Linked DNA regions of Homo sapiens. The protein of the gene in region 2 interacts with the protein of the main gene of each other region in a biochemical or structural test. Each region holds a gene or a part of one and is shown on either strand. Other genes may lie near its edges.

Evidence for each region.
Region 1: the proteins of STX1B (region 2) and SNAP23 form a complex in vitro, tested with the Homo sapiens proteins (one study listed by BioGRID).

Annotation. Positions count from the first base shown.
Region 1 is NC_000015.10:42,515,350-42,519,973, forward strand, and holds part of SNAP23 (synaptosomal-associated protein 23), read left to right. Parts: coding exon 1-5; intron 6-4,624. UniProt on the Homo sapiens protein: Essential component of the high affinity receptor for the general membrane fusion machinery and an important regulator of transport vesicle docking and fusion.
Region 2 is NC_000016.10:31,007,038-31,012,711, forward strand, and holds the start of STX1B (syntaxin-1B), read right to left. Parts: upstream 3,602-5,674; 5' UTR 3,360-3,601; coding exon 3,330-3,359; intron 1-3,329. UniProt on the Homo sapiens protein: Potentially involved in docking of synaptic vesicles at presynaptic active zones. May mediate Ca(2+)-regulation of exocytosis acrosomal reaction in sperm.

The sequences.
Region 1 (4,624 bases), on a different chromosome or scaffold from region 2:
AATAGGTGAGTTGATAAATTAAGATGGTTTCAAAATAAGTAATGAGAGTACCCCACCTTCTCCCACCAGCTAAGGTCAGAAGTATGACTGGGCTTAATGAGGAACTCTATTAGATAAATCTAAGTTGTCTCTCCTTCAGGCAGATTAAGCTTTTTGTGTAAATACTGCGTGTTCACTGAAAACTGTGACTTACATTTGACCAATCCTGGGATCAAGTCCAATTTCAATTTGTAGTAATACATGAAAAGGTTAGGAAGTATAGGGAAATGTATATCTGGATGATGGAAAGCAGGATGGAGTTATTTTCTTTTCCTTTCAAAGGAGGAGTATTAACAAAATATATATTTTGTGGTAGGCACATGAGGGATGGCCAAAAGAGTAGAAGAGTTGGGAAAGAATGGCAAAACATAAAAAATACATAAATCTAATGTTAGATTATATGATAGTGAGCAAGGCTAAATCTAATGTTAGATTATATGATAGTGACCAAGGCTAGGTATACAGAACTGATAAAGGTTGGGTTGGAGAGCATCTTATAGAAGAGGTAGGATGTGGATTGGGCTTTGAGTGATAAGAAGGATTTGGATGAACAGGGAGGAACAGTGAGGGCATTTCCTATGAAAGGTTCAAAATAAAGATTAACAAGGAGCTTGACTTAACTGAGCTGTGTGACTCATGTAGATGAGAAGTGGAAAGTAAGATATAAGTAGGTAGTAGAGGAACTTGAATGCCAAACTAAGGAGTTGACAGATTGGAGTGGAGTATAAAAAGAAACGACAGTATCTGGAGATTGAATGACTGTACTCACTGCTGAAAGTTTTGTTTTGTTTTTTTTCTGAGACAGGGTCTCTGTTACTGAGGCTGGAATGCAGTGGCGTGATCACAGCTCACTGCAGCCTCTCTTTCCTGGGCACAAGAGATCCTCCCACCTTGGCCTCCCAAAGTGCTAGGATTACAGGCATGAGCCACTGCACACAGCCAAAGTATCCTTTTTTTTTTGAGACGGAGTCTCACTCTGTTACCAGGCTGGAATGCAGTGGCGCAGTCTCAGCTCACTGCAACCTCCGTCTCCTGGGTTCAAGTGATTTCTCCTGCCTCAGCCTCCCGAGTAGCTGGGACTACAGGCGCATGCCACCACACCCAGCTAATTTTTGTATTTTTAGTAGAGACGGGGTTTCACTATGTTGGCCAGGATGGTCTTGATCTCTTGACCTCATGATCCGCCCGCCTTAACCTCCTCAAGTGCTGGGATTACAGGTGTGAGCCACCACACCCGGCCTCAATGTATTCATTTTTAAAGAGGTTCTTAGACATTAATATTTCATCCAGTTCTCAGCTGGTCTTGTAAACCAACAGCGGTTATATTTTTATATTTTCAGTAAGTGTTTTTATGAAACAACATTTTTATGCCATTTCTGTTATAGAAAGTAGAGATTAATTGCTTGTCAGTCAACTTTAGTGTTTGTTTTGGCCATGAGGAAAGGTTTGACAGTGTTCTTCCTAGTCTTATCCATTGGCTTCCTATTCTAACACAAGTCTGTTGACCTGTTTACACCTTGGTTGACCAACTGAAAGTTCTGTATTTTTTGAGACGGAGTCTCGCTCTGTCACCCAGGCTGGAGTGCAGTGGTGTGATCTCGGCTCACTGCAACTTCCACCTCACGGGTTCAAGTGATTCTCCTGCCTCAGCCTCCCAAGTAGCTGGGATTACAAATATGTGCCACCATACTCAGCTAATTTTTATATTTTTAGTAGAGACAGGGTTTCGCCGTGTTGGCCAGGCTGGTCTCAAACTCCTAACCTCAGGTGATCTGCCCGCCTCTGCCTCCCAAAGTGCGGGGATTACATGCGTGAGCCACTGCTCCCGGCCAAAAGTTCATATTTTAATAACTATGACTTGTCAATCAGAGTTTAGCAGATTACTTTAAGCAAACAAGTTAAAATGTACAGATTATTTGATACAAACTCTTAGCTATGTTTTACAAACATAATTGTACCTTTCTCTTGTGTTCCATGTACCTTCTTGGAAGAGTACAGAAGAGAGGAAGTAGATGAATTTTCTTGAGATCAGATGTTAGGAGAACAAGGAGAAAGAAGTCTCCCCTAAAATCTTAGAGGAAGATCAGCTCTAAGTCACGTGTTGATAAATAGGAAGAGCACTGAATTAGACCTAAGATGGTCTAATATCATAGAAAGTGGGAAATGCAGCTACAGAGTATTAATTTTATGTCTCTTTGTGTATCCCAGCCAAGCATAGGCAAGCTTTTCTTGAAGACTGGTGGGAAACAAGGTAGGGTATGGTCCTGAATCAGCATTCTTCAGCCTCTAACCTCAGTAGAACCCTTTCTCAGTGGATCAAGAGAAGGCATTACTTTTTTAGAGATGGCCTCTCCCTCTGTCTCCCGGGCTTGAATGCAGTGGTGCCACCATAGCTCACTGTAGCCTCAAACATCTGGGCTCAAGCAATCCACCCACATCAGCCTCCCAAGTAGCTAGGATTACAGGTGTGTGCCACCATGCCCAGCTAATTTTTGAAATTTTTTGTAGAGACAGGGGTCTTGCTATGTTGCCCAGGCTTGTATCAAACTCCTGGCCTCAAGAAATCCTCCCACTTCAGCCTCCCAAAGCACTGGGATTACAGGCTTAAGCCACTGCACCCAACTGGCACTTCTTTCTTTTTTTTTTTCTGGCACTTCTTGAGAGATGGAATCAAGGGGCTGCTGTAACAAAACAGTTCCCTTAAGAGAAGAAAGTATTATCTCAGTTAAAGATGTCTGATTGTAATTGTCTTTCTTCCACCTATTTCTTTCTTACACCATTGAGACCTTGGCCAGTATGATATCTCTTATCCTCAGCTCTGTTCCTATCATTCTTGCCTGTGTCTTGATCTTTCTAATCTGCTAGTCTGTGTTTCAGTTAGGCTCGTCACATGAATAACCATAACATGAGCTTCTTAAAGGTAGACATGAGATCTTAGTCCTATGTGTAAGGCCTAGTCTTCATACCAGCAGTAGCAGTAACAACCCAGGTCAGGTCCAGAGTTCCTTATTTGCCATTTGGAAATACTTTTTCTTTTCTTTCTCTTTTTTTTTTTTTTTTTTCTCGAGACAGGGTCTCGCTCTGTTACCCAGGCTGGAGTGCAGTGGCAGTCATGGCTCACTGCAGCCTCAACCTATCCTCCAGCGTCAGCCTCCTGAGTAGCTGGGATTACAGGCACATGCCACCACACCCAGCTAATTTTGTATCTTTTGTAGAGACAAGGTTTCACCATGTTGGCCAGGCTGGTCTTGAACCCTTGGGCTCAGGCAGTCTACCCACCTTGGCCTCCAGAAGTGCTGGGATTGCAGGCATGAGCCATTAAGCCCTGCTGGCCATTCAGAAATCTAAAAAACTCCTAAAGTTTTGTTTTATTTTTGCTGTAATGGTGCCACAACTCATTAGGGTATAAAATGTAACCTGAACTGAAGCTATGTTTAGTCTTTATTACTTGCTGTAGATATTAATTGGTTTCACTACAGAAATACTCTTTTTGAGTCAGGGTCTCACTCTGTCACCCAGGTTGGAGTACAGTGGTATGATCTTGGCTCACTGCAGCCTCGACCTCCTAGGTTCAAGTGATCCCCCCACCTCAGCCTCATGAGTAGCTGGGACTACAGGTGCATGTCACCATGCCTGGTTTGTTTTTAAAAACTTTTGTTTCTTCTTCTTTTTTTTTTTTTTTTTGAGACGGAGTCTCACTCTGTTGCCCAGGCTAGAGTGCAGTGATGCAGTCTCAGTTCACTGCAACCTCTGCCTCCTAGGTTCAACCGATTCTCCTGCCTCAGCCTCCCAAATAGCTGGGATTACTGGTGCCTGCCACCACGCCCAGCTAATTTTTGTATTTTTAGTAGAGATGGGGGTTCACCATGTTGGCCAGGCTGGTCTTGAACTCCTGACCTCAGGTGATCCGCCTGCCTCGGCCTCCCAAAGTGCTGGGATTACAAGCATGAGCCACCATGCCTGACCCTGTTTCTTTTCTTTTCTTTTTCTTTTTTTTTTTTGAGACAGAGTTTTACGTTGTCACCCAGACTGGAGTGCAGTGGTACAATCTCGGCTCACTGCAACCTTCGCTTCCTGGGTTCAATCGATTCTCATGCCTCAACCACCCAAGTAGCTGGGATTAGAGGCATGCACCAACACCTTGCTAACTAATGTATTTTTAGTAGAGACGGGGTTTTGCCATGTTGGCCAGGATGGTCTTGAACTCCTGACCTCAAGTGATCCACCCACCTCGGCCTCCCAACGTGCTGGGGTTACAGGCATGAGCCACCGTACCTGGACTTTAAAAAGTTTTTGTAGAGATGAGTTCTCACTATGTTGCTCAGGCTGGTCTCAAACTCCTAAGCTCAAGCAATCCTCCCACATTGGCCTCCCAAAGTGCTGGTATTACAGAAATGAGCCACCACACGCAACGTCACTACAGAAATATTAATGTATTTAATTATGTGGTACTGTCCAAAACATCTTGCCCCCAATGGATTGGGGTAACAGTTGTGGGCCTGTGCATTAATTTAAGGTACTATTCTGAACATGTTAATTTAATCCTTAAACAGTAGCCTTAATATGAGATAGATGTTTTTTATTA
Region 2 (5,674 bases):
GAGGTCAAGGCTGCAGTGAGCTGTGATTGCACCGCTGCACTCCAGCCTAGGTGACAGAGGAAGACCATGTCTCTAAAAACATTTTTTTAAATATAAATAAAGGCAGCCCAGAGCAGCTGGAGGATATGGATCCATCACCCAGGGTTCGTTGGTCTCTGCACCCTGTGATTTCAGGGCTGCGTTTCTAAAGCACCTACTGTGCCTGCCTCATACCTGAGGGCCTTTGGGGCACGGGGCGGTCCCTCAGCAGCCTTCATCCTGTCCAGCCTCAGATTCAGGCTCCTGCAGTGCAGGCCCCACCTTCCTCCCAGGGTGTCTCCGCACTTCTCCCACCCGACTCCACAGCTGCGTCTCAGACCTCAGCCCTCCCTGTGCCCCTCCTGTCTTCTCCCATAACCCACCTTCCTCTCCACCTCACTCACTCTGCTCTTTCCTCTGGAGCCCCACTCTGGCTTCACTCCTTAGACCCTGGGACACCTATTTAGCTGATTAACTCCTTTTCACAGCCTCCACAACCAGCCTAGCACCAACCAAGGTTGCCTGGTAAACTGGACGCAGAAAACCCTGGTTCAAGCCCACCTCAACCATTAAAAGCTATCTGACCTTGGACAAGTCAGGTTTTTTTTACCCCCTCTGGCCCTCAATGTACTCCAAAATAAAATAGGGGCCATGTCCTGCCCATCGCAGGGGGCTTGTGTGGTGTTGAAGAGAAATAAACAAGCCATCTGCTGGGTAACAGACACACAGCACTGCTGGGCGCCAGGCCCCCTCCTAGGCACCTGATGCATATTAACTACTTCCAGTCCTCAGGACAACCCTGTGAAACAGGCACTCTTACTTCTCCCAACTCATACGCGAAGAAATTGAGGACCAGAGAGGTTAAGCAACTTGCCCAAGGTCTCACAGGAAGTAGCAAAATTAGAATTTGAACCCAGACAGTCTGGCTCCCGAAACCACTGTGTGACAAACGGACTTGAGAACCCCTTGGGAATGCCAAGGTACTGTTGGAAAGACAATCAGTCCCCTGGGCTAATGTCCCCTCCCACCACCGCCCCTGCCTCATCCCTCCCAGTGTCTCAGAGACCCCGTTTCCAGGTCCCCCACACCCTGCCAGGTGTCTCCTGCATCCCAGGCTCCTTGCTTTCAACTGTAGCAGGGAGACCCTTACGCTACCTGAATCTGTCAGCTTTTCCCACCCCGCCCGCCCCCTCTTGAATCTCCAGTTTCCCTGAGCTGTGACTAATACCAAAGCCACCACATCCACTCAGCCCCTTCACCCTTCCACACCACCTCCGGCAGCCACAGCCAACAGGATTCCTTACCTCTGAGCAGGGGCCCCTGACTCATTCATGAGGCCTCCCCCTCCCCTGCCTCCCCCTTACCCCGCTTAGCCTTTTCCCTCCCTCTTTCTCGAATTGTACCCCAATTCCACACCACCTGATCCCAACCCACTTCCATTTCCCTGGGTTTTGGAGTCATGGAATAGTCCTGGTAGCAGGGGAACTGGGTTCAAGTCCGGATCCCTCACCTGCTAGCTGTGTGACCTTTGGAAAGTTATTCAACCACTCTGGGCCTCAGTTTCCCCAACTCTAAAATGAAAGAGCCTCCCCGTCCACTTGCCAGGAGGTCAGTGGGGCTCTAATGACATCACGGATGAAAGCCTGCTCTGCAAACTGAGGAGGGGAATTGACAGCACCGATGCTGAAGCCGGCCTGCCTGGGTTTGAATCCTGCCTTTACCAGCTGTGTGACTTTGGTCTAATTACTTAACCTCTCTGAGCTTAGTGTCCTTATCTATAAAATGAGATAACATATATCTATATATCTAAAAAGATATTTATATATCTATGAAATGAGATAACCAGTCTCATAGGATTGCTGTGAGGATCAAAATGAGTGAATATGCATAAAACACTTCAAACAATGTTTATTATTACTGTCACTTTCCTCATGCCTGAGTGTATATTCAGTAAAAATGTAATAAAGAAACCTTTAAAATTCCCTCCCTCAGCCACCAGCTCCTCCTTGCTTCCCATTTGGCAACCTGTCTGTCCCCAGAGACAGCGGTCACTTGCCTCCAAACACCTTCTTCTCGTCTGTCTGTAACCTGGGTCCCCACCCCCAAATCCAGGGGACAGCTCTTCACCCCCAGTGCTGAAACTTCTGTTTCAAAGGCCAGAAAAGCAGAGACCTGTGTCAACCTAGCAGACAGGAAACCCAGATTGCAGTCTGCCCCCCACCCACTTGCTTGGTGACCTTGGACAAGTCCCTTCCCACGCCTGAATCTCAGTTTCCTCATCTGTCAAGTGGGGTAATAACCCCTGGGGTAACAACCCACCAGTTCCCTGTAAAGGCTCAGTGCATTGGGCAGCTCAGCCGGGGCCGGTACCCTTATTAACATAACACCACCAGCCCAGCACAGTGCGGACTGTCAGTGCTGCCTCCTCGGGCCCCAGGTCATTTCTCCAAATACCCCAGCGTCCTCCCTGCCCCTGAAACCATTCTCATCGAACCCCACTCCCCAGTTCCTCCAGGTAGCAGCCTCCACTGCAGTCCTTCCCCTGTCCCCCCAAAACCAGGGACTGCCTGGCCAGACTCTTGGAGCCGGGCCTCTTCAGGCCTGCAGACCTGGGGCCTGCATCAGCCCTTGACTGCCCGGGGTGCCCCAGTTCCCCCAAGCAGAGCACGGCCCGTGTTCCATGGCCCTCTCCTCTGCATCCCCATCTCCCACCTCTGGGTCACCCTGTCTCAGGCCCTGGCCCTCTGGCTCTCTCCGGAGGCCACCTCTTCCCTCCCTGTCTCGGAGAGATGCCCCCTCCCTATAGGGAGTGACACACGCGTGTGCACACACACACACACTTCATTCACTGCCAGGTGCTGGCATCTCAGTCCCAACCTGTGTCCTTCCCCGTAGCATCCCCTGAATCTGGGTCCTGCTAGACTCTCAGCCTGGCCCAGTCACCGCCCCCATGCTTCTCTTTGGCAAACCTGCCCAGGGGATGACAGTCTCCTCCGGTTTCTCCTGATATCCACTCTCTCCCATCCCCAGACCAGACCCCGGGGCCCTCCTGGGAATGCGGGGTGTTCGAGGCCCCTGAGACCTCTCCTGCCCCCTTGTGTCTTCATGGCCTCCAACCCCTTCCAGGCACTGTCCCCAAAATGCAGGTTCACTGGAGAGACATCAGGCGCCTGAAGATACTGGGGTGCTCCGGCTACCAACCTCCGATCTCATCCTTCGCCCCCACGTCCCAGCACCTCCCCCACTCCATCCCCACGCGCTCCCCCAATATTGGGGTCCCGCCCCCCCATTCTCCCCACCCCCAAGCTCACACTCCGCAGCTCTTGAGTCCGATCCTTCATCCTGCGACGGCTCCTCCTCCTCCTCCTAGTCCTCCTGCCTCTGCTGCTGCTCCGGGTCTCCCGCCTCTGTGCCGGAGGCCGGGGTCTGGGGGCGCCGGGGGGCGCCGCGGCCGCTGCGGGGGGCCTGCGGGCGGGGGCGGGGCCGGGGGCGACTGGCCGAGGGCCGGGCAGGGGCAGGGGCCTGGGCCGGGCTCGGCTCTGCCGGGCTGCGGTGGCGATGCGGCTGCGGCACAGGGTAGGATGGAGGGATGCGGGAGCCGAGCGCGGGGGAGGGGGGCGGAGGGAGGTGAGGAGGAAGCGAGGGCGGGGGGAGCGGGAGCGCGCAAGGAGCAGGGGGCATGCGCAGCACCCGGGCCGGGGGCGCCTGGGGGTTGTAGTCACGGGCTTGGGGGACACCCGAGGAGGGGGCGGGAGAGGCCTGGAGGCGGGTGGGGGTGGGCAGAGCCCGAGGAGCAGGGAGAGATGCGGAGAGCCAAGCGGAGATGCTAGGGTGGCCCGGGGGGTGGGGTGGCCCGGCGGAAAGAGGGGGTGACGGAATGAATTCAGGGAATAACCTGGGAGCCAGGATGTGGATCCCTTTCCAGGAGACACAGATCGCGGCTGTGTTTTGTGTCTGGTGTCTGCGTGAGGCTGCGCGCCGACCACCTCTGGGTGCGAGCCCATGTGTGTTCTTGCAGGAGGCTCTTTGGACACTATAAATAGAAAGACCGACCCTCTGTGTGGTTTTTACGATGCAGGGAACCAGCCAGGTGCTTGCTGAGAAGGACACGGGGCTTGTGTTGCACAGCCTGGGCCTCTCCCGCCGCGGTGGGTCTCGGAGCTCTGCTTGTCTGCCTCCAGGGACAGGGTGCTCACTACCTCCCAGGACCTCTTGGCCCATCTGCAGATGGCTCTGACTGTTGAACATGAAATTTGTCCTTAGTGGGAGGGGAAATCAGGTGCCCCTGAGGGTCTGAGTGACCTCCTGTTCTGATGCCCACCTCTCCTCTCCCCATCCTTACACCACACCAGCTCCTCCCACCCCCTGCAATGGGGCGCCGGTCCCCAATGGGACAGGTCTTGACTCTCAATCGATCCTCCTGCCTCAGCCTCCCAAAGTGCTGGGATTCCATGCCTGGGCCACCGCACCCGGCATTCTCTTGCCAGGTACCCAGTGACCTCCTTGGTGCCAAATCTGTGTCTGATAAACCCTCATCCCACACCGCCAGTCGGGCCTTACCATCCCTGACCTCTCAGCAGCATGTGACCCTGATGAGCCCCTCTTCCTGAAACCCTCCTGTCTGTGGTGCTCCGCCCACCTACCCCCCAACCTGATCTGTGAGTGTTGTCTCCCAGCCTCTTTCCAGGTCCTTACCTTTTTTCCCACAGCCCTTCAACCTCAGGGTTCCCTGGGCTCCGTCCATTCTCTCTTTTTTTTTTTTTTTGAGTTAGGGTCTCATTCTGTTGCCCAGGCTAGAGTACAGTGGTGCAATCTCGGCTCACTGCAGCCTCAACGTCCCAGGCTCAAGTGATCCTCCCACCTCAGCCTCCTGAGTAGCTGGGACTACAGGCACGCGCCACCACACCTGGCTAATTTTATTTTTTGTAGAGACAGGGTCTCACTATGTTGTCCAGGCTGGTTTTGAACTCCTAGGGTCAAGCGATCCTCCTGCCTCAGCCTCCCAAAGTGCTGAGATTACAGGCCTGGGCCACCATGCCTGGCATTCTCTTCCTTCTTTACCTGCATCTTTCTGCACCTCCGTGTCTGCAGTGCCCACATCTGTACCTGCGAGCCAGATCCTCCCCCTGTAAGACAGCCCCTACTATATGCCTAAGCTCTGAGCTGGGCACCAAGAAGACAGAGATTGAAGATGCCACCAGAGCCATGAGTAGATCCATGACTACAGTGGGCATGGCTAGCGCTGACGTGGGGACCTCAAGGAGGTGGCTGTCCCCAAAGTGTTCCTTCCTGTGTTCTCCCTCAGAGATGGCGTCATCTCCATCCACCCAGCCACTCAAAGCACAGAAAGCTGTCCTTGCCTCCCCGCCATTATAATGCCAGCACGTTCTGGGCATCCAACGTGTTGCATTCACTATGCTGGTAGCTCCCAGAAACCTCCCAACCTCACAGTAGCCACTGCTAAGATCCCAAGTGTATAGACAAGGACACTGAGGCTTTGCATGGTCACATAACATATCCAAGTTCACAAGGTTAATAAAGGGCAGGGCTGGGGTCTTGTTTGCTTTTTTTTTTTTTTTTCCAGAGACAGGGTCTCACTCTGTTCCCCAGGCTGGAGTGCAGTGGTGCAATCACACCTCACAGCAGCCTTGACCTC